Homo sapiens: one gene and its partners. The protein of the gene in region 2 interacts with the protein of the main gene of each other region in a pairwise test. Each region holds a gene or a part of one and is shown on either strand. Other genes may lie near its edges. The genes, in order: TFRC, RMDN3, SLC13A3 and PELI2.

Region 1 (7,024 bases), on a different chromosome or scaffold from region 2:
CAAGAATAATTACCTCAAAGTAATTTTGTAATCCTCGTCATTTGTCCTTAAAAACTTGTTTTCCTTTACTCCTCTGAATATGTACATAGTTGACTATAGCACAGGCATTCCCATTGCAATGCCCTATTCCCAAATACAGATCACTTCCTTTTAGAGAGCCTCTCTCCATTTGTCATTTAAATGAACAGACTTACCTCGCAAAAACAGAAAGAAACTGCTGGGATTCCAGAATATGCAAGGAAAGGGAAAGCAGCATTGTCTAAAGTGAGTTTCTCACTGCAAAGACAAAGAATGTGTCTTTAGAAAGTGTTTTAAAGAATAGACTGTTCTATCGTGCTAGTCCCCCCATCCAAAATAAATTCTTTAGCTGAATATCTTTAGGTGTAAGTAAGTTCAATGCAAGGACAGATTTAGATTCTACCTAATGTAGTAGGTAGAATCTCTGCTTTTCTATTAGTTTGTTCATTCACTTTTCTCAACTTACACTTTGCTGGCCCAGTTGCTGTCCTGATATAGAAATTGCCCAGTAACCGGATGCTTCACCTGTAAGATAAGAAATTATCATTAAAACTAACCTTTTGGAACTTATTTATTCAGGCTAGTCACTAACATGTTACTCTATAACAATTTTTAAATAAAAAACTTGTATTATATCTTCTTGAAAAGAAATTATTTATGATAGTTAAAACAATCTCAACTTTAAGTTATTACTAACTAGGCTCATGTTGTCAGTTCCTTTAGTTATGGTGAGGAAAAAATGTTTTCTTCTTAATTAACATTTTAAAAGTGGGCCTAGGCCGGGTGGGGTAGTTCACAACTGCAATCCCAACACTTTGGGAGGCCGAGCTGGGAGGATCACTTGAGCCCAGAAGTTTGAGACTAGCCTGGGCAACACAGCAAGACTTTATCTCTTAAAAAAAAAAAAGGAAAAAAAAATGAATAAAAGCTGGGCGCGGTGGCTCACACCTGTAATCCCAGCATTTTGGGAGGCCAAGGTCAAGAGATCATGAGGTCAAGGGATTGAGACCATCCTGGCCAACATGGTGAAACCCCGTCTCTACTAAAAATACAAAAATTAGCCAGGTGTGGTGGTGTGCACCTGTAGTCCCAGCTCCTCAGGAGGCTGAGGCAGGAGAATCGCTTGAACCCAGGAGGTGGAGGCTGCAGTGAGCCAAGATCGCACCATTGCACTCCAGCCTGAGTGCTGGAGGAAGACAGAGGAAGACTCCATCTCAAAAACAAACAAACAAACAAACAAAACCATGGTGGCTTACCCACAATTGTAAAAGCCCTCTCTGGGCTTCACACTATGCCTATCTTGTTTCTGGTTTCTTCCTTCTAGTGCATCTTATGCCACCAACCTAACTGGCAAATTCATGATCACCTTGCTTGAGATCCTATAATCCCTAGTATCTCTTGGATCAAGGCCAATGTCTGCTATCTGACCTGTTTCTAACTTTACTCACTCCAATATACAGCCTCTAATCCCATTAGGCAAATATTTTCTTTTTTATTTATTTATTTATTTTTTTTTTAATTATACTTTAAATTTTAGGGTACATGTGCACATTGTGCAGGTTAGTTACATATGTATACATGTGCCATGCTGGTGCACTGCACCCACTAACTCGTCATCTAGCGTTAGGTATATCTCCCAATGCTATCCCTCTCCCCTCCCCCCACCCCACATAGGCAAATATTTTCTTTCACATGCTCTCCCTCATTCAAAACTATGGTAATTGTTTATTCAATGAATATTTCCTCCGGCCTTCTCAAAGTATAGTTCAAGTTGATTTAAGCCTTCCTTAGCATTGTGACTCTATAGACAATCCCCTGTGGGCCCCTGCACTACAGCTTAGGCCTCATGGCATTTTGTTATATATTCCTAAATAAACAACATATTCTTTAAGATTGGAGCCCTCATCTCATATGGTTCAATAGGCAAGTATCCCTTAAATAACGCTGCTATAAAATTTATTCTCAATTCCTATTTTTTGTTACTGACTACGGTTTACATATCAGTGTTTTTTATCTCAGGTTGATTCAACAAAAATTAAGTCATACATTTTTGTAATGAGGTATATACTCACATTTTGCATTGTTTTCTCAATAAGCGTATACAACAGTGGGCTGGCAGAAACCTTGAAGTTGCTGGTACCTGAAAATAAATTGTTTTATCATTGCCCCTTCTCCATTCCGATAATTTTCACACTGCTACTTCTACAACTATAAGTACTTGACAAATAAGACAGTAATCTAGATCAGTGGCCCTGTGCAACAACTATCCCATTCATCAAGTAAACAAAAGTAATTTTGGTATCAAGCTCTTTAGCAACTAAGCTAACTTCACTCAAGTGGGCTCGTACTACTCCTTGAGTTTGCATACTTTAATCCAAGTCACCTTTTTTAAAAATATCAGAGCAGTTAGGCCGGGCACGGTGGCTCACGCCTGTAATCCCAGGACTTTGGGAGGCCCAGACGGGTGGATCACAAGGTCAGGAGATCGAGACCATCTTGGCTGGCACAGTGAAACCCCGTCTCTACTAAAAATACAAAAAATTAGCCGGGTGTGGTGGCGGGCACCTGTAGTCCCAGCTACTCGGGAGGCTGAGGCAGGAGAATGGCATGAACCCGGGAGGCGGAGCTTGCAGTGAGCTGGGATGGCGCCACTGCACTCCAGCCTGGGTGACAAAGCGAGACTCCATCTCAAAAAAAAAAAAAAAAAAAAAAAAAAAAATCAGACCAGTTTTAGGTTCAGCAGCAAAATTAAGAGAAAGGTACCTAGAGGTCCCATAAATCCACTGCCCCCACACATGTGCAGCCTCCCCCATTAGCAATTTCATGTTTAACTTTCTGGTTCACCCAGGTTAGAGCTATACATAGTATGCTTGCTATACTCAGCACATTCTGCGGCAAACATACAACAGGGAAATAACTAACCTAGAGAGGTTTAATTGTAACTCTTTCCTTTTTTCCCCCATGTAGACATTTCACTATTCTCAGCTCATCAGCTACATCTGCACTTTCTTTTTTACCCCATTCCTGTTGAATGTACAGCTGCACTTTAAATAACATTCAAACCCTTTTGTCAATTTTCTGCTGCCAGTGAACATTCAAACTCTTCTAGAAGTTTCATTATCCAATATTTCTATCAGTGATGCCACAACGTAACAGGATGTGAATTACTCTCTAAGTACCATTCTATATGGCATAGTTTAGTTTCTTCTCACCTCAATATAGTCCAGACTTATGGTCCTAAAACTTTAGTCCATCAGAATTACCTGTAGTGCTTGTTAAAGTTTTTTGTTTCTTTGTTTGGGTTTTTTTGCTTCAGGATACTTTGTCCTTAAGAAAATAATAGGTTTTTATTCCCCAAGGGTTGCCAAAAAAAAAGCCCAGTTTTTTTGTTTGTTTTTTTGAGATGGAGTCTCGCTCTGTCGCCCAGGCTGGAGGGCAATGGCGCCATCTTGGCTCACTGCAACCTCTGCCTCCCGGGTTCAAGTGATTCTCCTACCTCAGCCTCCTGAGTAGCTGGGATTACAGGTACTCGCCACCACACCCGGCTAATTTTGGTATTTTTAGTAGAGACGGGGTTTCACCATGTTGGCCAGGCTGGTCTCGAACTCCTGACCTCAGGTGATCCGCCTGCCTTGGCCTCCCAAGTGCTGGGATTACAGGCGTGCACCACTGCGCCCAGCCCAAAAAGCCCAGTTTTTAGACCAACACTCCCATTTCTGACTCAAAGGTCTGGGGTAGACATGACAGTTTGCATTCGTAACAGTTCCTAATGCTACTCATCTGGGGGCCACACTGAGAACTACCCACTGTTCTAGACAAGCAATTGTGCTCACTGTGTAACTTGACAGACTATTTAAAGGAAGGTTAAGATACAGGCTGAGGGCAATGGCTCATGCCTGTAACCGCAGCATTTTGGGCAGCTGACATAGAATGCTTGAACTCAGGAGTTTGACACCAGCCTGGGCAACATGGCAAAACCCCATCTCTACAAAAAAAATTAGCCAGGTGGCTGAAGTGGGAGGATCACCTGAGCCCAGGAGGTCAAGGCTGCAGTGAGCCAAGATTGTGCCACTGCACTCTAGCCTGGGCAATACAGTGAGACCCTGTCTCAAAAAAAAAAAAAAGCTTTCTTCCACTTCAAAGTAGTTTATCTGGCCAGGCACAGTGGCCCACATCTGTAATCCCAGGCCGAGGCAGGCAGATCGCCTGAGGTCAGGAGTTCGAGACCATCCTGGCCAACATAGTGAAGCCCTGTCTCTACTAAAAATACAAAAAATTAGCTGGGTGTGGTAGTGAGCACCTGTAATCCCAGCTACTCAGGAGGCTAAGGCAGGAGAATCGCTTGAATCTGGGAGACAGAGGTTGCAGTGAGCCGAGATCGTGCCATTGCACTCCAGCCTGGGCGACAAGAGCAAAACTCCATCTCAAAAAAGTTTACCTGAATTCATACACAGCTAATGAAAGGGATACTTACCAAGAACCGCTTTATCCAGATTAATATAAGTGAAAGCCTTTAAATGCAGGGACGAAAGGTATCCCTAGAAGAGAAGGGAAAACACTAATAAGTATAAATCTGTTTATTTATCACATACAGTAGCATTAGGGATTCATTTTCAATTCTGGACTCTACTGAGACTAAACGCAAAGGCAAAAGTGGTAAAATCAAACCTATAAAAACATCACTTCTGGACAACAGCCTAAGCCCACAAGCTCGTGTCCAATATGGGAAGGGATGATAAAGAATACCTCTAGCCATTCAGTGGCACCAACCGATCCAAAGTCTCCAGCACTCCAACTGGCAAAGATAATGCTTCTGCTGGGCTGAAACCCATCTGAAAGAGAAAAAAGTTAGCTTTACCTGAGGAAAGGTTATACACAGACAAGGATGGAAGGTATCCCACTTAAGATGAATCAGAAGGTCTAATTCCAAGATAGCAGATTCCAAAATCTTTTTTTTCTGAGCCAAAAAAGAAAAAAAAAACTAACAAAATCTTTTTTTGAGACCCCAGGTAAAAGAATAAAAGAATAGGAATAATTTTTTTTAAAGTAACCTACAAAGAGCAAGATAGGAGATCTGCAAATAAGATTTTGAGTACATAGCAGGGGCCAGTAGTCACCCTTTCACAATTTCATTCTTGGAGTTCCTTAACTTCTGGACCCAGAGATCATTGAAAACAGTGTAAGCATGATGATGCACATCTTGAGAAAAATCTTCAGAGGTAAATCCAAACATTGGATTTTTAAAAAAATAATTCTAAAATAAAATAAAAATTCACAAATTTAAGTTACAAGAAGAGTTTGCAGAGAAACTATATTTGTGACAGCACCTTTTGAGGTTACATGTATCACACTGCCCTCCATCCCTCCCACTTCCCTCACTGTATCTTTTTCTCCATTAATGTACTCTGTATTAAAGTTAAGCATTGCAGTTTGCCCTAAGACCCAAAGATTCAAGAATGTGACGTGATTTTGAATGTGTGGGTGGGTAGGAGTGTGAAAGAGTGGAAAGTAGGACAGAAAGGCTCAAAAATAAACAAAAGAGGCAGGGCACGGTGGCTCACTAGCAGCATTTTGGGAGGCTGAGGCGGGTGAATCACTTGAGGTCAGGAGACTAGCCTGGCCAACATGGCGAAACCCTGTCTCTAGTAAAAATACAAAAATTGGCCGGGTGTGGTTGTGGGTGCCTGTAATCCCAGCTACTCAGGAGGCTGAGGCAGGAGAATTGCTTGAAGTCGGGAGGCAGAGGTTGCAGTGAGCTAAGTGAGATCACACCACTGCACTCCAGCCTGGGCAACAGAGTGAAACTCTGTCTCAAAAAATGAATAAATGAATAAACAGAACAAAATTTCAATAGCTGTTAGGCCTCAGTACATGAGTAGAGAGGTATGCTACTGCTTTCAAATAGATTGCTTAGGGACTATGATCCACCTTATCACTCTGGATCCACCACACTAAGCACTAGGGCTCAGTAACTCCACTGTCTCAAAGAAACTGGTGATTTCTAGCACAGTTAAGACACTTTATGGAAAGCTGTTTCAAAGGAAAAGGCAGCTACAACAAAAGACAATCTGCCTTGTATTTAAGAACTAGAGTCTAGCATGAGAACCACAGGAATGCAGGCAAAGTGAGCAAAGCACAGTATAACATCTAGAACTGTATGCAGTGCACCAATATTCAAAAGAATCAAAATTTGTACTCTACCTTTTAAGACCATATCTGAGAACATCTGGGCAAGTTTCAATAGGAGAGCTGTGCCTACACCGGATTTTGCAGCTCCAGGGCCCCATGCATCTCTCTGGGCCCCAACTACAACATAGTGATCTTTAAAAAAGAAAAAAGAGGAAGAAAGAACTTATATAATCAGCTTCTAAACTTTTCTAGAATTAGCACATCAGTAGAAAGGTAAAAGCACAGTATATGTATTAAGGATAAAAGAGCCTTACTTCAAATCTGACTAAAAACTCTGGGAATTAAAAATTCACATGAGAATATTAATTTTACCTTACTAGTAGAGCTACTTTTTTCCTACACTACTAATTAAATTTACTGACTACTTAAGTCCAAGGACTTATTTCTTAGTAAGTGTTGGCTGTTTGATTGCATTTAAAGTTAACTCCAGGGACTGGCAAACTACAGCCCGCATGCCCATTCACTACGCACAGTCTGTGCCTGTTTTCTTGCTCCCACAGAGTTGAACAGCTAAAAGAGAGACTGTATAGCCTGGCAAAAGGTTTATTATCTGCCCCCTTAAGAAATTTGCTTATCACTGGTCTAGTCAATAACTTAGAATAGATTTTCTAGTCATAATGGTCAATTTTTAACAAGAATTTCCTAGGGCCTTATTACCTCCCAATAAAACTGACACATAGGCTGGGCGCGGTGGCTCATGCCTGTAATCCCAGCACTTTGGGAGGCTGAGGGAGGCAGATCACCTGAGGTCAGGAGCTCTGACCTCATGGAGCCTGACCAACATGGAGAAACCCTGTCTCTACTAAAAATACAAAAT
Region 2 (7,545 bases):
ACACCCAGAATTCAAGAATACCTGCTTTCCATTGGAAGAGAAGGCCCAGTGACGCTCAGATAGCACACGTTCACAGCCAGGTCATGGTAACAAGTCTCAAGAAACTACCCAGGGATCTCTAAACGAGAGCCCTCTGCTCCAAGAACCTTCCATACCAGGGCCCTTCAGGAATGCTGCACACCACGATAGATAATGTAACATGCTTGCCCAAGTGTGGAACCTGAAGGAGGACAGCTGTCCTGCTAGAGTTAAAAAAAAACAAAAACCTTCACCTCACCATATAGTGCCCAATACCAAGGAGTCAATACCAACCACATAGCAAAACTAAAACTAAAACTGAGCTCCCTCAAATTCTGATCTCTCACTTCACAAATAATAGTAGGGAAAACTTGGAGTTTCTCCCAGAACTTCATTTAGTATATCAGAGAAGGACTAGGAGAAAGGGGGCAGTTATTAAGAGAAAAGGTACACCAGAAAAAGCCCATCCAAACTGCCTCAGAAAGACACCGTCACTAAGCCCTGCTGACCCAACCCTAGATCTCAGAGTAAATTCCAGCAGTGAAATGCTAGCAAAGTGACAGCCACCTATGGTAACTGAACTGGAAAATGCAAAAACAAAAAAGAAACCAGAGAGGCAGGACCCTACAATACGGCAAGCATAAATCCCTTCTTAAAGGAAATCTGGTAAAAAACTAGGCCAGGCCACAACATACATCCAATAATGCTCAAGAATGTAGTGCAAGAAAGATCCCTGGCAATGTGGCCACTTTCTTCTAATCTCAGAAGAAACACTACTGCGAAGCAATTACAAACAAAATACAAGGGAAGGAAGCACACTCCAATACTAGATTACCACAAGATTATAAAATGCTGACAATCATTTGCAATCTAAGCTGATAGCTCTTTGAAGACTCCAAAACTAACTTTTCCAAACCATCTAACATTGGCAATCAGAGAAAACACTCATTTCCAATTAGCATGGGAGTGAGATAATGTAAACGCTCCTCTTGGCCAGGTGTGGTGGCTCACGCCTGTAATCCCAGCACTTTAGGAGGCCGAGGCCAGGAGTTGGAGACCAGCCTGGCCAACATGGGGAAACCCCATCTTTACTAAAAATACAAAAATTAGCTGGGCATGGTGGCACGCACCTGTGATCCCAGCTACTCGGGAGGCTGAGGCACGAGAATCACTTGAACCCAGGGAGGCGGAGGTTGCAGTGAGCCAAGATCATGCCACTGCACTCCAGCCTGGGCAACAGAGCGAGACTCCATCTCAAAAAAAAGAAAAGAAAAGAAAAAAGAAAAGAAAAGAAAAAAAACACTCCTCTTGCACAAAGATGGTAGTAGTTTGAACCAGCCCTAGATCCTTTGCTCAAATGAATTGACAAATCTGCAAGAACTACTCATTTCAGCTGTACAGGCTGCCAGCCACATTCAGCTTCAATTGCATTAAGCGTGCTCCTAGCCCTATGCCGTAGAAAGTCCACTGGACCAGGTGACCAGGCCCAACCTTGCCACTTAATCTGTGACAGCCTCAGGAAAGTTATACCATCTTTTTGAATCTTGGTTTCCTCATAGGAGGGATAAAAAGAAAAAAAAACTTGAATGAGATAGTTGCCAAGTTGTCTTGATAGTTGCCAAGTTGTCTTCAAATTCTAATATATGATTTAATACATAAGCCTCAAGACTTTTAATCCCTACAAGATTATTCTTTTTGCCCTCTTTTGGACTCTTCCTCTACTTATTACACACCTCACCCAACACTAAGCAAGTGCCTTTAATACCCACATAGCACTATTGTGGCCAGAACTAAAAGTGAAAGTTAAACAGTCTTTTTGAAATATACTTTCTTGTGAGTACAGGCGAAAGAGTAGAGAAAACCACGACTGCTTTTTTTTTTTTTTTTTTTTTGAGACAGAGTCCCACTCTGTCACCCAGGCTGGAGTGCAGTGGCGCAACCTCAGCTCACTGCGGCCTCCGCCTACCAGGTTCAAGCGATTCTCGTGCCTCAGCCTCCCCAGTAGCTGGGACTACAGGCCGCGCCACCACGCCCGGCTAATTTTTGTATTTTTAGTAGAGATGGGGTTTCACCATGTTGACATCTGGTTGAACGTTGGCCAGGCTGGTCTTGAACTCCTGACCTCAGGTGATCCGCCCGCCTCGGCCTCCCAAAGTGCTGGGATTACAGGCGTGAGCCACCGCGCCCAGCCCGACGACTGCTTTTTCAACAAGCTTCCAAAAAAGTGAAACCCTAAAGCACTTCTCTCCGTTACCCTGTCCCACAGTCTCCACCGAAAGCAGCCCAGACCTCAGGCCCATTAGTCTGCAGTGACCGCGGTCTCAGGAGACGGGCTCCTACCGTGGCGTCCGGGATCTGAAGTCTGCGTATAGTCCAGGGAGTTGGGCAGGCTCTGGCTGCGGCCATGACGCTGGGTCCGTTTCCATCGCTGGCTGTAAAGGAGGCACAGGAATCCAAGGCCGGCGGCGGTACCCAGCAACAGTCCCAGCCCGGCACGGGCACCACCCAGGGCTCCCAGTCTAGACATGCTGCACCTGCGGCCAGCAGAAGTCACCGGGAGCAGGCAGGCGGGCGGGCGGGCGGGGGTAAGGAGAGAGAGAGATTCGTGAACCCGGTAAACCCACCCTCAAGGCTGAACCCCGGCAGGTATCCCCTTGCCCAAACCCTGAGCTCTCGACTACGTGCACCCCAGTCTGAACCCTAAGGCTTCCTCCAGCCTCCTGGGCCCCACTGCCTCTCTTCTCACCCAGCCTGGACGTAGCCGCCCCTCCAGTACACCCCCCGACCCGGGTCACAGAGTCCGGCTTCTGGGCCTTCAACCCCCACCTCAGCCTCACGACACTGCAGACCACAAACCCGGCGCCCTGGCTGCAAACTCCTGGCCTTCCGCCGCGGCCCCCGAAGGCGCTCTGGCCTGGCAGGAGATCCACTCAGACCCTTACCCGGCCGCCAGCCACCATGGCAGCAGCCGCCGCGGGCTCACGCTGTCAGTGACCGTGACGTCAGGCAGGCGGCGCCAGGTGCTCGGCGCCCTGCGGGAAGGCGCAGAGAGATGACCGCGCCGGCCCCGCCCCTTGTCTGTTTCCCTCAGGGGCGGGGCCACGGGCGCCGCCGGAGGGGCGGAGTCAGCACAGAGCGCGAAAGGAAAGCAAGAAGGGGCCCAAGACAGGGGAAAGGCGGGAAGGCAGGGAGACTTCTTGGGCGGACGCTCGCGCAGTCACCCTCACCGTCCGGCAGCCAGGCCTCCATTTCCCTCCGGTCACACCGGCTTAACTTGCTGCTCCCGGAATACGCTCAGCATATTCACACTTTCTACCTGCGCTTCTGCCTGGACCTCCCCTCTGTACCTGGAAAACGTCACGCTCTCCCCACATTTTATTTTTATTTTTATTTTGTAGAGACTGGGTCCCGCTCTCCTGGTCTCTCAAAGTGCGATCCGCCCGCCTCGGGCTCCCAAAGTGCGTGAGCCGCCGCACCCGGCCATAAATCTTAAACCTAACGTGCTGTCTTATAATTCTGTTTTACTCTTGTAATTGTATGCAACTTCTTATAATTGTGGCAACTAAAAAGACCGATTTTATGGACTATGATAACAATTTTATTGTGAACATTTCTTAAGAGTTAAAATTTAGTTTAGTGAAAGAAATATCTAGGCCAGTCCTCCCAATACCCTTGACTAGATCTTATATTTATTTACCCTTTAATTGTGAGATATTGTATACATATAAGAATACAGGAGGCCGGCCGTGGTGGCACGTGACTGTAGTCACAGATACTCTGGGGGCTGAGATGGGAGGATCACTTGAGCCCAGGTCGTCGAGGCTGCAGTGAGCCATGATCACTCTGGGCAACAGAAGTCAGGATATCGAGGCCACCCAGGCCAACCTGGCGAAACTCCGTCTCTACTAAAAGTACAAAAATTAGCTGGGCATGGTGGTGCACGCCTGTAATCCCAGCTACTCGGGAGGCTGAGGCAGGAGAATTGCTTGAACCCAGGAGGCAGAGGTTGCAGTGAGCCGAGATCTCGCCACTGTACTCCAGCTTGGGCAACAGAGTGAGGCCTCCTCTCAAAACAAATAAACAAAAACAACAACAACAAAAAATATATTTATATATATATAAAGTATATATATATATATACACTTTATTTTGGAGGAAATAAAAATTTCCTCTGGAAACCTTCCCAGATCACCACCTTGGTGAAATTAAGCTTTTCACCCTGCTTTGCTCCTGTGGCTCTATTGCCTCCATTATACTTTTTTTTTTTTTTTAGACGGAGTTTCGCTCTTTTCGCCCATGCTGGAATGCAGTGGTGCGATCTCGGCTCACTGCAACCTCCTCCCCCGCCCCTGGGTTCAAGCAATTCTCCTGCCTCAGCCTCCGGAGTAGCTGGAATTACAGGCTTGCACCCCCACGCCTGGCTACTTTTTGTATTTTCAGTAGATACCGGATTTCTACATGTTGGTCAGGCTGGTCTCGAACTCCTCACCTCAAGTAATCTGCTTGCCTCAGTCTCCCAAAGTGCTGGGATTACAGGCGTGAGCCACCGCACCAGACCCATTACACTCTGTTCTGTGATTATTTGCTTTCTACTCTGTCTACACCACTGGACTGCCCACTCTTCCAGGATGGGGTTCACTCCTGATTCATCCCAGGTCCCCTGTGCCTGGCACAGCTCTAATGCAAAAGCATCCATAAAAGCTGAATGGAGGAAGGAAGAAAAGAAGGCGTGACCGACAGCACGCCCTGCCACTTTGACAGTGTGTTCTCAGCTGTGGCAGAAAACTCAGTGGCAGAACAATAATTTCTCCTCTCTACGGGGGGGAGGCAGCTCTGTGAGATAAACGGATTGTGATGAGAGGCTAGGCCAAATGGGCAGACCAAGCAGGGGAATTCATTTCCCCCTGGATATTAAAGATGTTATCTGGCAGGCACGTGTCTGCCAGGGCAATCAGCAGTGTGGTGGGTGGCTCTGGACAGAGCTCTTTATCTTGTGCTGCATCTGCAGACTAGCTTTGCAAATGTAATAAAGGCCTGGCTGCCTGAGATATGCACTGCCCACCTTCCCACCCCCTCCACAGCCCAGCCTGAGAAGAGAGCAGACCAGACCCCAAACTGTTGTCCTGCCCTCTGCCCAGAACATCTGCCTCATCTACCCCGGCTCTTCCAAGAGAGGTGACAAGTCAAATGCCTTGGGATGGTGGCCTTACCCTTGTGTATAATGTTTAAGGTTCTTGATGCCTTAAAAAATAATTCTTTCTCTAGGCCAGGCACGGTGGCTCCCGCCTGTAATCCCAGCACTTTAGGAGGCCTAGTTAGGTGGATCACGAGGTCAGGAGTTCAAGACCAGCCTGGCCAATATGGTGAAACCCCATCTCTACTAAAAAATACAAAAATTGGCTGGGTACGGTGGCTCATGCCTGCAATCCCAGCACTTTGGGAGGCCGAGGTGGGTGGATCATGAGGTCAGGAGTTCGAGACCAGCCTGGCCAACATGGGGAAACCCTGTCTCTTCTAAAAATACAAAAAAAAATTAGCCAGGCGTGCCATGATCTCAGCTCACTGCAACCTCTGCCTTCCAGGCTCAAAATATCCTCCCACCTCAGCCGGGGGTGGAACTACAGGCACATGCCGCCATGCCCAGCTAATTTTTTACTTTTTTTGTAGAGACAGGGTCTCCCTGTATTCCCCAGGCTGGTCTTAAACTCCTGGGCTCGGACAATCCTCCTGCCTCGGCCTCCTAAAATGCTGGGATTACAGGCATGAGCCACCATGCCCAGCCCTTTTAGAAATATATATATATAATTTTTTTTTTTGAGACAGGGTCTTGTTCTGCCATTCAGGCTGGAGTGCAGTGGCACAATCACCACTCACTGTAGCTTTGAACTCCTGGGCTCAAGCTATCCTCCTACCTCAGCCTCCCGAGGAGCTGAGACTGCTGGTGTGTGCTGCCATGCATGGCTAATTTTTCAGTAGAGACAGAGTCTCACTATGTTGTCCAAACTGGTCTCAAACTCCTGAGCTCAGGCGATCCTTCTGCCTTGGCGTTCCAAAGCACTGGGATCACGGGCATGAGCCACCATGCCCAGCCAGAAACTTTCTTTTTTGTAGAAATGGGAGTCTCACTGTGTTCCGCAGACTGGTCTCAAAATCCTGGGCTCAAGCAGTCCTCCTGCCTTGGCCTCCCCGAGTGTTGGGACTTACAGGTGTGAACCACCCAACCTAGCTCAAAAACTTTTAGTCTAATTTTGATAGATATAAGGGCTGTTTCCAGTTTTTTACTGGTTACAGTGCTGCTGTGAACATTCTTGTACATGTATCCTGATGGCTGTGAGTTTTCCTGAGGTTTATTTAGGAGAGGTTTGGCTGCGTCACAGGGTATCATTCACACCAACTTGCAAGCCCAACAGTAGTGGGATTGTTGACATCTTCACCAACACTTGATATTTACAGATTTTAACATTTTAAATTTATTTATTTATTTTATTTTTTGCTAACCTGTAAAGCACTATCTCACTGCAGATTTAAAATGTAGCTTATGGCCGGGTGCGGTGGCTCATGCCTGTAATCCCAGCATTTTGGGAGGCCGAGGCGGATGGATCACGAGGTCAGGAGATCGAGACCATCCTGGCTAACATAGTGAAACCCCATGTCTACTAAAAATACAAAACAATTAGCCGGGCGTGGTGGCGGGCGCCTGTAGTCCCAGCTACTCGGGAGGCTGAGGCAGGAGAATGGTGTGAACCCAGGAGGCAGAGCTTGCAGTGAGCCGAGATCACACTACTGCACTCCAGCCTGGGCAACAGAGCAAGACTCCGTCTCAATTAAAAAAAAAAATGTAGCTTAGGCTGGGCACAGTGGCTCATGCCTGTAATCCCAGTACTTTGGGAGGCGAAGGCAGGAGGATTGTTTGAGGCCAAGAGTTGGACACCAGCCTGGGCAACACAGTGAGACTGTCTCTACAAAAAATTAAAAAAAAAAAAATTAACTGGGGATGGTGGCATGTGGGAGGTGAGGTGGGAGGATGCCTCAAGTCCAGGAGCTCAAGGTTACAGTGAGCTTTGATCACACCACTGCACTCCAGCCTGGGTGACAGAGCAAGACCCTGTCTCTTAAAAAAAAGAAAAAAAGTAATTTAGTCTTCTGTACTCCTGGTGTTGCTTATGTGCTTGTTTGGTTGGATCTGGTACTGTTACCGCAACATGACCTCAATTCTTTTTTTTTTTTGAAATGGAATCTCACTTTGTTGCCCAGTGTGATCTGGGCTCACTGCAACCTCCACCTCCAGGGTTCAAGTGATTCTTGTGCCTTAGCCTCCCAAACAGTTGGCACTACAGGCACACGCCACCATGCCCGGCTAATTTTTCTATTTTTATTTTATTTTTTTCAGACGGAGTCTTGCTCTGTCACCCAGGCTGGAGTGTAGTGGCTTGATCTTGGCTCACTGAAATCTCCACCTCCCAGGTTCAAGCGATTCTCCTGCCTCAGCCTCCCGAGTAGCTGGGACTACAGGCACCCGCCACCAGG
Region 3 (7,024 bases), on a different chromosome or scaffold from region 2:
AATATGTTGACGTGATCACATTTCTGTTAAAAAAATCTTCTTTTAATAGGGTTCTAAAAGCCAATTGGCATATGTTTCATTGAGGTATAATTAACATGCAATAAAATGCACCCATTTTAAGGGTATAGTTTAACAAGTCTTGACAAATGTATGCAGTCCGATAACAGCGTGATCACAATGTAGAACAGTTCTCAGATAGGCATTGTTTAAAAGTCAGGAAAGATGTATATCAGAATTAGAGACTGAGATTTAGCTGATCTTCACATTTTCTGTATTGTTGAAATGCTTATAATGCCCATTTTGCATCTGAAAAAAATAAAGCATCTACATTTTAGAAAAATAAAAAAATGGTAAGAGCAACAAGAGCTTCATGGCTTCATGAAATTATATTGTTTCTTGCTTATAACAACCTTCAGGAGATCAGAATTTATGTCACCCATTTTACCAGGGAAGAGGTTGAGGCCCAGAAGGTGAGATATCTGGATTGTGCACTGCCCAGTATGGTAGCCACAAGCCACATGTGGGCTAGTGGGCACTTGAAATGTGGCAAGACCAAACTGACATGTGCTTTAAATGTAAAGCACACACCAGATTTTGATGATTTCACATGAAAAAAAGAATGCAAAATATCTCACTAATAATTTATACATAAAATATATTATTCATATTAGTTTCATCTGTTTTTCACTTTTTTAATATAGCTACCAAAAAATTTAAAATACATATGTGGCTCACATTATATCTCTCTTGGATGGGGCTAACTGAAATAATCAGATTTCACCAAATCCAGCAGATACATCTCTATTTAATCATGTTCCCACTCACACCAGAATTTGACACAGTGCCCACTCACGCTTCTTAAAACACTCCCCTCTCTTGGCTTTTGCTGGTCCATAGCTCTAAGTTTTCCTTCTACCTCACTCACCATCTCTCTGTTTCTCTGGTAAATTCATTTTCCTTTCCCCAGCTCCCAAGTGCTGGGGTTCCTCATGGTCTATACTCTACTTAAACACTTTCCATAGCTGAGCCCATTGATTCCTACGGATTTAACTCCCAAATTTATACAATGACTCCCAGATTTATGTCTGCAACCTAAACATCTCCTCTAAGCTCCAGTCTTGCATATCTAACTGCCTATTGAGCTTGACAAGTCTAAACCAAGTCCAAAATAGAATTATGAATAAGCCATTCCCAGCCCCCTAAAAAATATTCTTCTCCAATTAACCACCATCCATGCAGGTACTCCTTTCATTCACACCCCCCAATCCAACCCAGCACAAGTCCCACATTTAACTTTGAATGATATCTTGACTGCTACATTGCCATTGCTACCACCCTCACTCAAGCCATCCCCCAGACCAGGGGTCAGCAAATGTCTCCTGTAAAAAGCCACACAGTAAGTATTTTGGCTTTGCAGGCCACATGGTGTTTGTCTGGACTCACATTTGACATTGGAGTATGAAAGCAGCCATAGACAATATGTAATTGAATAGGTGTGGCTGTGTGTCAATAAAACTTTATTTGCAGACACTGAAATTTGAATTTCATATAATTTTCGTGTATTACAAGACGTTGTCTTTTGATTTTTCCGCAGCCATTTAAAAAATGTAAAAATCATTCAAAATCAAATGGCGGGCCAGATTTGGCCCAAAAAGACACGGGCCATCTAGATGATGTTATAGCTCCTAACTATTCTCCTCGTCTATATTTTTGCCCCCACTACCCATTTCCTAATGAATATAGCTAACAACTATTGAGTTCTTTTTATGAGCCATTTTAATCACTTGACATGTATTAACTCATTTACCTTTACAACAAGTCAATGAAAAACGTACTAGTATAATATCATTTTACAGATTAGGAAACTGAGGCACAGAGAGGTTGAGTACCTTACAACCCTCCAATGGCTGCCCACTGCTCACAGAAAAAAAACAAACCAAAATGCATAACATGCCCGAAAAGACACTCTGATCTGGCCCTCCCCTACCTTTCCTCACCCGCTTTCCTTCCTTCCCACCAGGCCTCGCTCCCACTGGGCTTTTCTCATTTTCTCAAACATGCTACGTTTGTTCTGACTCAGGCTTCAGTAGACATTCCCAGGGCATCTCCACTGCTTTCATCTGCAGTCTTCCTAAGCTTTGGCTCTTCCCAGAACTGTCCAAAGTCAATGCCCCTGCTCTATTATTTTATAGCATAACCCTCTCAGTCTTTCCTTCATAGCACTCATTGCAATGCAGTTGTTTTGTTGTCTAACTACTTGCTTTTGTCTGTGTCCCAGCATCCAGCATCCAGCTTAGCACATAATAGGTTCTCAATCAATGTTGATTGAATGAATGAACGATTTGCTCAGTCACACAGCTCGTAAGTGGCAGAGCTAGAATTCTAACCCAGTTTAGTCTGACTCCAAATCCAGAGCTCCCAACACATGAGAAGTCATATTTTATCACCCAAACCTAAACTCTTTTGAGAGTGAAAGAGGGACCTATTAATAATCATATGGGACAAAAGATGGAAACTTGGATGCGTGTCTCCCCAGCTGCACTGCCGCCTCTCCAGCTCCAGGTGGCCCAGCCCAGAATCCTCCCTGTTGGACTCCTCCCTGTGGGTCCCCAGAGTCTCACCCAGGATTGAAGAGGCTGGCCCAGCCAGGGATGAACTTCGGGTCCCGGGTGAAGAGGAGGATGGCAAACATGCAGAAAAGGATGAAAACAGCCTGTTCGGCAAACCTGTGGCACAGACATGCAGGCATGATGGTGACCCCGGGTTTCAGGCAGACCGCAGCAGGCACAGGCTCAGGCAGCTGCCCACTGGGAGTGACTGGGCCCGGGCTCTGCCTCTGAGAAAGCTGAAGTCATCCACTCCCCAGGGAGTGCCCAGAGTGAGGGGAGGGGTGCCAATGGACTGTAAATGATTCCTGTCCTAGGACTTCCACGATCCCTCAGGATCCTTCCTGAGCCTCAAGCCACCCCCTCCCCGAAATCGCGTGTTTCATTATCACCAGGAGTTTACCAGGGTCCTACGGAAAATCAAGAAAGTGAGAAACAGAGACAGAGTCCGAAAAGCAGAGAGGAAGAGAAACAGACAGAAATGCAGTAGGCAAAGAGAAAGAGGAGCATTCATACAGAGAGAGAGAGAGACAGAAAAACACACAGTCTGTCTACACCGAAAGGAGAAGACACAGAGAGGGGACAGACCTGGAGAGAGGGTGGATGAAGGTGGAAAGAGAGGATCCCCAAGAGTTGGAGGAGACAGTTACCCAATGTACCCATTTCACAGACTGGAGAGCAGGGCCCAGAGAGGGTTAGTGCCATGACCAAAGCCACACAGGACATGAGTGGCACAGCTGGTCCTTGAACACAGGCCTACTGAACCCGTTATTTTCACCATATGGAAATGTGCATTAAACAAGGTCCCGGAAGTCACCTGAGATAGTGTCAGGTATTCTGCGTACCGGGAGGGAAACGGTGCCTTGGGTGGAAGGTAGCAGATCCCACTGTAAGTACACTCTGAGGGGCTTTTTGGTCCTCAGGTTTCTACCCCAGCACCACGGCAAGAGGTTGACTGTGTAAACCACCTCCCATCCTCCATCTCTAGGCTCCCACGCCACGGGTCCTGGAATTCCCCTGGAGCTCAGCCCCCATGGGCCCAAGGCCAGGCCAGGAGGAAGCTCTCCTGAGCGTTTAATACTCAGCTCTTTCCTTAACCCAAGGGCCCCCACATACTTGATGGGCCCCAGGTTCTGGTATTCTTCCCGAATTACAGCTCGAGCCCTATCTTCTGCATTGGTTCTTATCTCAGATTTATTCTTCCTCCAGCCCCTGAAACAGAAAGTGGGAGATTAGGAGTGGCCACTGCAGGTATAACTAACTTCTCACCTACAACAAGCACCACCACCTGACCAAGCCACATCCTCTCTGTCCGGGAGGCTGCAACTGCCTGATAGCTTGTCTCCCTGCAACTGTCTTCCTTTGCTACAGTTGTTCTCCCCACGTATAGCCTGGTTGATCTTTGAAAATGTGAATCTGATGATATGACTTCCAGGCTTAAAATCCATGAGTGGGTCAAACAGGCACATGAATAAACACAGGAATCAATGGAACAAAACAGAAAGTCTAGACACAGACTCAATCACAAATGGGAATTTAGTCTATAATAAAATTGCTATCTCAGATTGGTGTGGAAAAGATGGGCTATTCAGTAAATGGTATCAGACATATAGATCAATGGAACAGAGTTGAGAGCCCAGAAATAAACCCATCCATCTATGGCCAGTTGATTTTTGACAGGCGTACCAAGACTGAATAGTGGGGGAAGGAATAGCCTTTCAACAAATGGTGCTAGGAAAACTGGACAGCCATGTGGAAAAGAATGAATCTGGACCCCTACCTCACACCAAATACAAAATTAAACCCAAAATGGATTGAAGACCTAAATGTTAGAGCTAAAGCCATAACACTCTCAGAAGAAAAGGCAGGGGTAAATTTTCATGTGCCTTGGAATAATATGGTTAGAGTTAAAACCATAAACCTCTCAGAAGAAAGGGCAGTGGTAAATTTTCATGCCCTTGGAATAGGCAACAGTTTCTTCAATATTACGTCAAAAACACAAGCCATCAAAGATAGATAAATTTGACTTCATCAAAATAGTAAAATGTTGTGTGTCCATAAATGGTGTTAGGACACTGGGTGACCATTTGGGACAAAAAAAAGTGAAGTTGAATCCAAACTTCACACTGTACCATAAGGATGAACTCCAAATAGATTAGAGGTTTAAATGTAAAAAAAAATAATAATACTAGAAGAAAACATATGATTATTCTTTTATAAGTCCTGTATTAGGAAAACCTTTCTAAACTGTAACTGAAATTTCAGAAACCATATGAGAAAAGATTGAAAAAAAAATTAAAACAATTCTGCAGGGAGAAAAGCACCATAAGCAAAGCCAAAAGACAAATCAGGAAAAAAAATGTAGCTTCTATTGTAGAATAAGCACTCATCTTTCTAAAATATAAAGCATACCAGAAACTAGTAAGAACAAGACCAAAAACCCATTTGAAAAAAATGTATAAAAATATGAACACACAGTTTCACAATTCACAGGAAAGAAAATACCTATGAACAAACTTTTCATATGCTTCCAAACCTATGAAAAGTTGCCCAAAATTACTGTTCATAAAATAAACACAAGTTATTTTTCTCTTATCAGATTGGCAAAAATCCACTTTGCTGCAAGGAAGCAGACACTCTCATACATTGTTCATGGGAGAGGAAACATGTACGATTTTTATGAAGAATGATTTGATAATATCTATTAAAATAAAAATGTGTTTATTCTCTGATCCAGAAATCCCACTTCTGGAAATGTATCTTATAAAAATGCTTGCTTCCTTTGAGCTACAGCTGCAAGGTAAAAGAGAAAAAAATAATAAAATAAAAATTAAAAAACAGCTGGGCTTGGGTGGCTCATGCCTGTAATCCCAGCTGTTTGGGGGGCCGAGGTGGGTGGATCACTTGAGGTTTGAGACCAGCCTGGCCAACAGAGTAAACCCCTCTCTCTACCAAAAAAAAAAAAAGGCACAAAAAATTAGCTGGGCAAGGTGGCAAGAGCCTGTAGTCCCAGCTACTCTGGAGGCTGAGGCAGGAGAATGGCCTGAACCTGGGAGGTGGAGGTTGCACTCCGACATGGTGCCACTGCACTCCAGCCTGGGTGACAGAATGAGACTTTGTCTAAATAAATAAATAAATAAATAAATAAATAAACAAACAAACAAAAATCTGTCACGGAGGCCAGTCACTAGAAAAAGATATCTATGTCTGCTCATATTTGCTTAAGAAAACTCTGGAAGGTTACACAAGAAACCAATAAAAGTGGATGCTTGTTTGGGAGGATATCGTGGCAGAAGAGGCCCATGGTTGGGAAGAGGGGTTCTCACTGCATACCTCTTAGCGCTGTTTTGATTTTTGAGAAGCATATGTATGTATTGCCTATCCAAATTAAGGTAGCCATATTAAAAAGTAATTGAAGTAAGCAAAATAAATATAGGAAAACAAAGTGCCAGTATTATATTTTGGCTAGTTATCATTTCTGGCTCAAGTCTCTGGGTCTGAAGCTTGCTCTTTCTTCGTTTAGAGGTTGATTTGGAAATGTTAGATATTAAGGTTTCTTTAGCACCCAACTGAGACTTTCTCCTCAACGTAAGTAGACTGAGTGATGAGAGTTGATAAAGACATATTTCCCATAATATGATTTGGTGTTATTTAGTATTTTGTCCTCATGCCACCCCAAATTATCTTCTGTATCAGGGCCCCATAAAATGGGAAATCGTGCACTCCCCTCTTCTCTGGTCAAGAGTGTTTACCTTATTTAAAGACAATACTATTAATAATTATGAATAATATGTGACATCAACAGAGGGTCTGTGTGTGGCAGGCAGGTCACACCTCTCACTTAATCCTCACATCCCTGGGAGGTCAAGAAATGAGGATATGGCTAGCACGGTGGCTCACACCTATAACCCCAGAGCTTTGAGAGGCCAAGACAAGAAGGATCACTTGAGGCCAGAAGTTTGAGACAAGCCTGGGCAATATAGTGAGACTCTGTCTCTACAAAAAATTAAAAAAAAAAATTTAACCAGGCACAGTGGCACTTGCCTGTAGTCTCAGCTACTTGGGAGGCTGAGGCCAGAGGAACACTGAACCTGGGAGATTGAGGCTGCAATGTGCTATGATCGCACCACTGCACTCCAGCCTGGGCAGCAGAGCAAGACCCTGTCTGTAAAACTAAATGCATACATACATACATACATACATACATATATACATACCTACATACATACATACATAAAAGAAAGAAATGAGAATACAACATGAAATAACAATCATCCTCAGTTTTCATAGGCAGATACTGAGGTTAGAAACGCCATTCCCTGCTTCCCCACTCTATTGCCAAAAAGAAAATGAGAGGTACCTGAAGCTCAGTCCCCCGTACAGGAAGGAGATCCAGAGCCAGCCTGCCAACAGGAACA
Region 4 (7,024 bases), on a different chromosome or scaffold from region 2:
CTCATCTGATCACTGGATATGATACATATATGCCGTATGTACAAAGCCCTGAGCACAGTATGTATACCTAGCTTTACATGTTCAATTACTGTAGTGGTTATTTTAATGAACTTCACAAATCTCCTAAGATTTTCTTTTTAACTCCTTAAGTCAGTAACACAATGACTCACTGATCCCATAGGATGAGAGATGTCCTACCAGTCCATCCAGTGGAGACTCATCCTCATCTTGATGACAGCCAATCCAGAAGATCTTGCGGGGGGCCTGCAGTCATTACTGGAGGGTCCAAAGCACTCCTGGTGACCCTTAGCTTCCTCCACCTTGAATCTATCTTTCATCATTCATTTTTAAGGTTTGAAGCTAAACAGTTCAACATGAGCCTTCATTTTTAGAAGGAGGCCTGTGCTATGCACTAAGTGCTTATAAGACTGATTAACAGCTGACAAGCAGCAGCTAGGCGTGGTCAGCAAGAACGTGACCGCTGCCTCCACATGCCAGATGCATGCTAAGCCTTGGAGGTACCAAAGGCCAATAAAACCTCTTCCCCATCCTGCTGAGACTTGCTCTTCAGTAGTGGAAGGCAGACATGCCCAGAGCTCAGAGTGCATGAAGGCCAGTAAAGCACTGTTCAAGGCCACAAATTTATAGCAGCCAGGAGTGTGGACTCTGGGTTTGAACCCTGGCTCTCCCACTTATTAGCTGTATGACGCTGTGCAGATTACTTAAACTCCTCGTGCCTCAGTTTCCCCTTGTTTAAACTTTAGAAAAGGTGGTTGTGTTAGATAAGTAAATGCAAAGAGTTCTTAGAGAACACTGTCTGGTACGCAGTCAACACTCTGTAAATACCTGCTACTATTACTCTGATGATGACAGACGGTCAGAAATGGTTTCTAAAAGGTTTTTCTTTAACAGAGATTTGAGAAAGATGTCAGGCCTCAGTAGGGAGGATAGCAGGAAGGCACAGCAGGGAGAAGGAGGAGAGGCCAAATGGCATATGCACCAAGGGAGCAACAGGGAGTTTGATGAGGCTGTGCAGCCAGGCTGAACAAGGATGGACGCAGTTCAGGGCACTGGGTGGGGGGGGACGAGAGACCCAGGCGGGAGAGGGAGGCTGGCATCCATGCCCAGAGGGAGTTGGTAGGGGGTTTAGGTAACTATAAAAGAACTGATTGACCTTTCAAAAAGGTCACTTCTAGAACTTTGGAGGGTGGGTTGGAGGGGTAAAGATGAGCTGTGAAGGAGGCAACTGGTGCTCTCTCTGGGTAGAGAGGGTGAGTACACCTCAACAAAGACAGTCTCAGTGGCAAGAGACAGAGGCACAGGGACTAGAGAGAAAGAAATTAGACTCGATGGCACTCAGCTCTTGATCTGAGCAAGAGCCTCTTACGTGCCTGGTTGTCTGGGTAGAACAGTGCTTTCCACAGACAGAAACACAGGAGAAATGGCAGATGAGGGAGTAAATCCTGATTTCACCACTTAGTAGCTCTGTGGTCTTGAGTCAACGACTTAACCTCTCTGGGCCTGGCTTCCACATCCATTAAGCTGGAATAATGCCAATACATGTCTTATAGGATTGTTGTGAGAACTAAATAAGTTCAACAGCAAGAGCCAGGCCAGTTCAGTTTTGGGTGTGCTGAATGTGAGGGTGTGCAGAGTATCGGTGGTGGTAATGCATACAAGGCACGTGTGATGCAGCGTTGGAGACAGATCAGGCTCGAAGAAACATATCTGGGATGTTATCCGCACCTAGGTGAAGCTGTGGGAATGGATGCCACTGCCCAGGCAGGGTCCCAGGGAGGGCAGAGAGGACTGAGGACAGAGCCAGGAGCTGGGGTGGAGGAAAAGAACCATGTAAGGGAAAGAGAGAGGTATGGGAAGCACCAGAAATTTTGTCAATCTTTGGTTCAAAGGACTTTGGCGGCTTTCTGCTGCCCTTGGGGTACAGCCCAAGCTTCTTAACACACTTAAAAGGTCACTCCCAATGCAGTCACTCGACTTCTCCTGCTGTAGCTCTTCCCTTCCTAACTGGAAACCAGGACTGTCCTGCGATGAGCTGCAAGGAGCTGGAGTCCATGAGCGCACTACCTCGGACTGCCCACAGGCAGGTGCAAGAGCAACCTCTGCCTAGAATACTCCACTCCAGTACACCCTGCTCCAGCTGAGCCCTGGTTGGCAAACTCCTACTTGTCATCCAGGTCTCACCTGGATGTCACTTTGCCCTGGACATTTTCCTTGTCATGAAGAAATCAGCCCTTCCCAAGTATTAGTTTTTAGAAAAAGTTAAGGTCCCAACAAATGATAAATCTTAATACTGTACAGGACATACACTGTGACTCCTTTCAGACAGCCTGAAGTTTGCTGATGCTCCTTCCCCGCCCCACCACCATACCGAGCATCCCATGGTCTCCTCTCCTCTAACTGGTGACGTGAGGCTCCTGACCTTGCTGACCACAGGCAATTCTCAGAGGAGGCCTCATTGCAGGATAAAACTGTGTCTAAAGGATCACCCTGATGTGGTAAGAAGCTGAGGTATGGTGGTGGCCTAGCCTCTGGCTGTGGAACAACCCCCCTTTCCTCCTGCAGGGCAGTTCTTGGTAAACAACAAAGTCTTATTATAAATCTGGGGTGTATGGTTTTTTATTTTCCACATACCCTTGACTCCCACATCTGGGGTAGGTGTCCTGTGGAGGGAAAGTACCTTCGGTACCTTCTCATGACTGTGCTCATCACACAGTATCTGCTGATCTGCTGCCTAGTCTGTGACCTCCTCCAGACCATGCAATTAGAGGGCAGAGCGTGGACTTGGTGTTTTCTGCCACATCCCCAGTTTGCAACCCCTGCTTAGTAATAACAACCAGCCAGTCATGGGGCATTACTGTGTCCAGCACTGTTCCAATCCTTTCCAGCTACTGAATTTAGTTCTCACAACAGTCCTATTAGACATGTATTAATATTATTCCAGTTTGGGAGATGTGGAAGCCAGGCACAGAGAGGTTACGTCGTCAATTCAATACCACAGAACTAAGTGGTGAAACCAGGACTTGAACCTGGTGGCCTGATTTAGCAATCATTAGTAGGCATGAATTCAGATTTTATTTTTTAAATTCTACCACAAAAGAAAAGCTATGAGCAGGCACAGGAATTGACAGTATTGTGGAAGCAAGAGACATTTGGCCTCTACCATGGCAACTAATGGCCCCTACATAGCAACTATCTAAGCACAGGGTAGTGAATTCAACCCCCCATCCACCACTTCTTATTAGCAAGTGACTTAACCTTTTAAAGCCCAGGTTTCCTCATCTGTAGACGGACACAATAACAACACTGACTTCACGGGTTATTTTAAGCAACACTGGAAAGACAATTAATGTAATGCACCTGCTAGAGCCTGACCATAGCTACGCTATGGTTATTTTTATAATTTCACCTAAAATTAGGTATGCAATCAACTTAACTGAATTTACTTAATTTTATACAAAGCCAGTTTAGTTTAATAAAATACTTCATATATAATTTAATTAAATACTCAAGGCCCTCCTGGAGTAATATTATAAATGTTACCATATGTTATCATTAACTAGCTAAAAAAGGAGGGCACAATTCAAACTCCATTCACCTATTTATTCAGGGAGTTAAAGGCCTGAAAAGACATTTCCCCCATATTTAATTAATTTTGTTGATTAGTACACAGTTCTGAGGTTCCATCATTTGCTGTAATAATGAAAAACAACGGTGATTTCTTGTTACACATACATTAGTATATTGATTCATATCAAATGCTCAGTATGATATTAATACATAATCTTCCACCAGCACTAGCTCCACAATGTGACTACTATTGTTTTAACAAATATTTTAGACTTTTAGCAGCTCACTTTATTTCTCATATTTCTGTATTAGACTGCAAATGACAAGTACTGCCAGAGACTGTCTCCAAAATCTAACCTCCAGATAAACATAATTTATATCAAATGCTACCAGCAACATGTACAGGACCAATGAGTCATGAATTGAAACAGAAGTTCAAAGAGTCAGTAAGCTTTCCTCGAAGACAGACAAAAACTGTTCTCCAGAGGTTAACAAGAGGAGATTGCAGGAAGAATGTATCCGTTCAGTGTCCCATAAGCCCAAGATCAGGCTGATAGAAGCCTTTGTAACTGGCCAGGTTAATCGGATGCTATCAAATAGGACAGCACAATTTTACATAGTTCTCAGTGTCGCTTATAGGGACTAACTTCAAAAATAGCCTGTATATTTAATACAACTCATTAATACAAGCCATTTTTGGAGTTCGTTCTTTTCAGTCGCACTGTAAAATTCTCCAGCACACATAGCAGCCTGAGAAGGGTCATTACACAATAACCAGAGTGGACGAGAAACTCATCCTGTGATATGCCCTCCTGGACAAAGGCGCTCCCCACGGACTCCAGCGTATGCTTTATACTCACCCAGGGAGGCAAATGCTCAGGTGTAAACCATCCCTGGCTCCCCACAACATGGTACTGAGTAGTATTAGGTGTCCAGGCTCTCCATCAGGGAGACCTGAGTTTGAATCCCACTGGCTGCCACCTGCTAACTCTGTGACACTGGGCAATCTTTAACTTCACGCCACATCTTCCTCATCCATGAAATGGGGATGACTCTACTTCCCTAAGAGGGCTGCTGTGCAGATGAAGTGAGCTCATGTCGGAAATGTTAACGCAGAGTCTGCACCCAGCAACCATTTACTGACTTCTTACTCTTGCTGTTATAATGATGAATAACCAGTTTGGCCAATCTAGGTCAGTTTTGTATAAAACTATCCAGTGATCAGAAACAAAAGATTATTTAGAAAAACTGCTTTCACATTTCCTCCTTTGTTTACAATTTCTTGAAAACATTCATACAAAATTTATTGAATTTGCTTTTTTTTTAGAAAATGCTTCTCATATTTATTCAGCCATGGTGCACTGTAAGACGCATACGCTGTGCCTGAAGCTGAAAAATGGTGTAAAATAGAAATAAAAATAACCATTCCCTAAACACAAACATCCAGTAGAGAACAGCAAATGAGGTCAGTGAAACAGCCCCCAACTTCTTTTTCCATCTTAGACATTTTTGGTGATGATCTTTCTCTCTGACAAGTGCTAGGTCAAATCCTCTATTCTGTATACATTTTATTCTGTGGGAGTTTTGAAGAACTCCTTCTTTTCTAGCTTCTAGAAAAAGACATTTGTTCTCTCTCGTTCTAGCTTCTACCTAGCAAATTAAGAAAAGTACAGGAATGGACAGCTTACTAAAAATCAGTGGCTGTGCTACATGGCTATGGCAAGATCAGAAACCCAAAGTTCTATATTTAAGGTATTATAATTATTCTCCAAGAAAGAATGGGTTTAAAAAAACTGCTTTAGGGCATGGGGATAAGTGGTGATATTTATAGGAAAATATTAACATGCCAGGTCAATGCAGTATATAAATCATTTCAAGTAAACAGTTGTAACTATGATTTTGGTGGACAGTATAGAGAATTCTGCCTTAATATATAGGAATTCAAAGGGAAAACCAGCTGACTTATTTTTTACTTCCAGAAAGTCTAGTAAATAATTCCTTAATGCATAATTTTTACTAATTGTTTTTGGACTGCTCAAACGTTTTCCAAATCAATAAAGTTTTACACTAAAAATAAGTTTCTTCTCCTTAAAGTGAATTTAAGTAGATTTTTGTGGTGAGGTATATAATAAAAGATAATGCTCTTCAGGTGGTAAGGAGCAAAACACAATTTACTCCCACTATGGGAAAAGTTGAACCCCTGAAGGAGATAAGGCCATTTCCCTCTTGATTTCAGGGGCTTGTGGAATTCTGCTTCTCCTGAGTTACAGTACATGGCGCTTGGACCTGCACAAAGGTTCTGAACATCAGGGGAGGAAAATGATAGCCTTCGAGTTAGGCTTGAGTAGTTTCGTACTTCACACTTGCAGAGTGAAGCACACTCACCAGCTTTCCTCGTTGCTGGGCCGACCTGGTTTCTCGCAAGGTGTACACATCTCCACAGACAGAGATCTCGCGCCAGACCCCGGGCTGGGACTCCTCGGTGAAGCCCCCTCGTGGATGCATCACCAGGACGCCATTAGTAGTGAGCCCATCCATGTGGCCGTCGGGGTTTTTCCACTTTGCTGCCTTTTCCTGGAGAGAACACAGCAGAACAGAAAAAGTAGGTTAAGATGATGTTGAAATGGAAAGGATTCTGGAATTTCTTTAATACATTGCATAGAGGCAGAGGGGAGGAAGGTGATGAATTTTCATTTTCTATTTAAAGCTAATAATCACAAGGATAACATATGCCATCCTTTCGACAATATAAAAGAAGTGCTGAATGGATGAATGACTTATCACTGGACACACATCATAGTTCTCAAGAACTTGCAAAAAATCGAGGCCTGGGCTTCTCCCTCTAAGATTCTTTTTACCTTCCCCACAACCCCATGAGATTCCAGGAATCTGGTGTGTTTTCTCTTTTCAGTTATACTTATGCCATGCTCCTATCCTGTTATCTAAAAGTACTTTCTATGTTCTCACTGTCAGGATAGAGAAGAGAAAGGACAGTCATAAAGAAAGACCTTTTATTAAAGCTAGAAAATTCCAAAAATGTTAAGCCAACAAGTCGGGGTCATTATGTTTTCATAATAATCACCGTTTAAATTCTCAAAGGTAGATGGCGCATGTAGCTTGACATGACGACAGGACAGACACTCTTGGGTGCTTGTGCCACAGCTCTTCCCTTCAGCTTTCTTGGTGACAGAGCTCAGCTACTGTTCATGTGGCTGGGGCGGGGGTTGGGGGGTGGTGGGGAATCCTGATTAACCCAACATGACACTCCCAGCCCTCTTCCCAATAGCTGGTTTACAGGTGGGCACAGCACATGACTGGGCTCTGACTGATGACACATGATATCTTCTTGGAGGCTTCCAAGAAAGGTGTCTGTGCTCTAAGAAGAGACAAGGAAGAAACAGTGCTTCTGCCACCCTCTTCTCTGGCTGGAAGTTGT

Evidence for each region.
Region 1: the proteins of RMDN3 (region 2) and TFRC interact in binary tests that used the Homo sapiens proteins (3 or more experiments, as listed by UniProt).
Region 3: the proteins of RMDN3 (region 2) and SLC13A3 interact in binary tests that used the Homo sapiens proteins (3 or more experiments, as listed by UniProt).
Region 4: the proteins of RMDN3 (region 2) and PELI2 interact in binary tests that used the Homo sapiens proteins (3 or more experiments, as listed by UniProt).

Annotation. Positions count from the first base shown.
Region 1 is NC_000003.12:196,058,090-196,065,113, forward strand, and holds part of TFRC (transferrin receptor protein 1), read right to left. Parts: intron 6,340-7,024; coding exon 6,220-6,339; intron 4,851-6,219; coding exon 4,765-4,850; intron 4,557-4,764; coding exon 4,493-4,556; intron 2,159-4,492; coding exon 2,091-2,158; intron 544-2,090; coding exon 485-543; intron 277-484; coding exon 195-276; intron 1-194. UniProt on the Homo sapiens protein: Cellular uptake of iron occurs via receptor-mediated endocytosis of ligand-occupied transferrin receptor into specialized endosomes. Endosomal acidification leads to iron release.
Region 2 is NC_000015.10:40,752,239-40,759,783, forward strand, and holds the start of RMDN3 (regulator of microtubule dynamics protein 3), read right to left. Parts: upstream 3,017-7,545; 5' UTR 2,845-3,016; intron 2,553-2,844; 5' UTR 2,546-2,552; coding exon 2,359-2,545; intron 1-2,358.
Region 3 is NC_000020.11:46,585,438-46,592,461, forward strand, and holds part of SLC13A3 (Na(+)/dicarboxylate cotransporter 3), read right to left. Parts: coding exon 6,967-7,024; intron 3,819-6,966; coding exon 3,723-3,818; intron 2,727-3,722; coding exon 2,622-2,726; intron 1-2,621. UniProt on the Homo sapiens protein: High-affinity sodium-dicarboxylate cotransporter that accepts a range of substrates with 4-6 carbon atoms, such as the citric acid cycle intermediates succinate and alpha-ketoglutarate (2-oxoglutarate), as well as other compounds including N-acetyl-L-aspartate.
Region 4 is NC_000014.9:56,289,406-56,296,429, reverse strand, and holds part of PELI2 (E3 ubiquitin-protein ligase pellino homolog 2), read right to left. Parts: intron 6,163-7,024; coding exon 5,974-6,162; intron 3,712-5,973; coding exon of another isoform or gene 3,664-3,711; exon of another isoform or gene 3,075-3,663; intron 1-3,074. UniProt on the Homo sapiens protein: E3 ubiquitin ligase catalyzing the covalent attachment of ubiquitin moieties onto substrate proteins. Involved in the TLR and IL-1 signaling pathways via interaction with the complex containing IRAK kinases and TRAF6.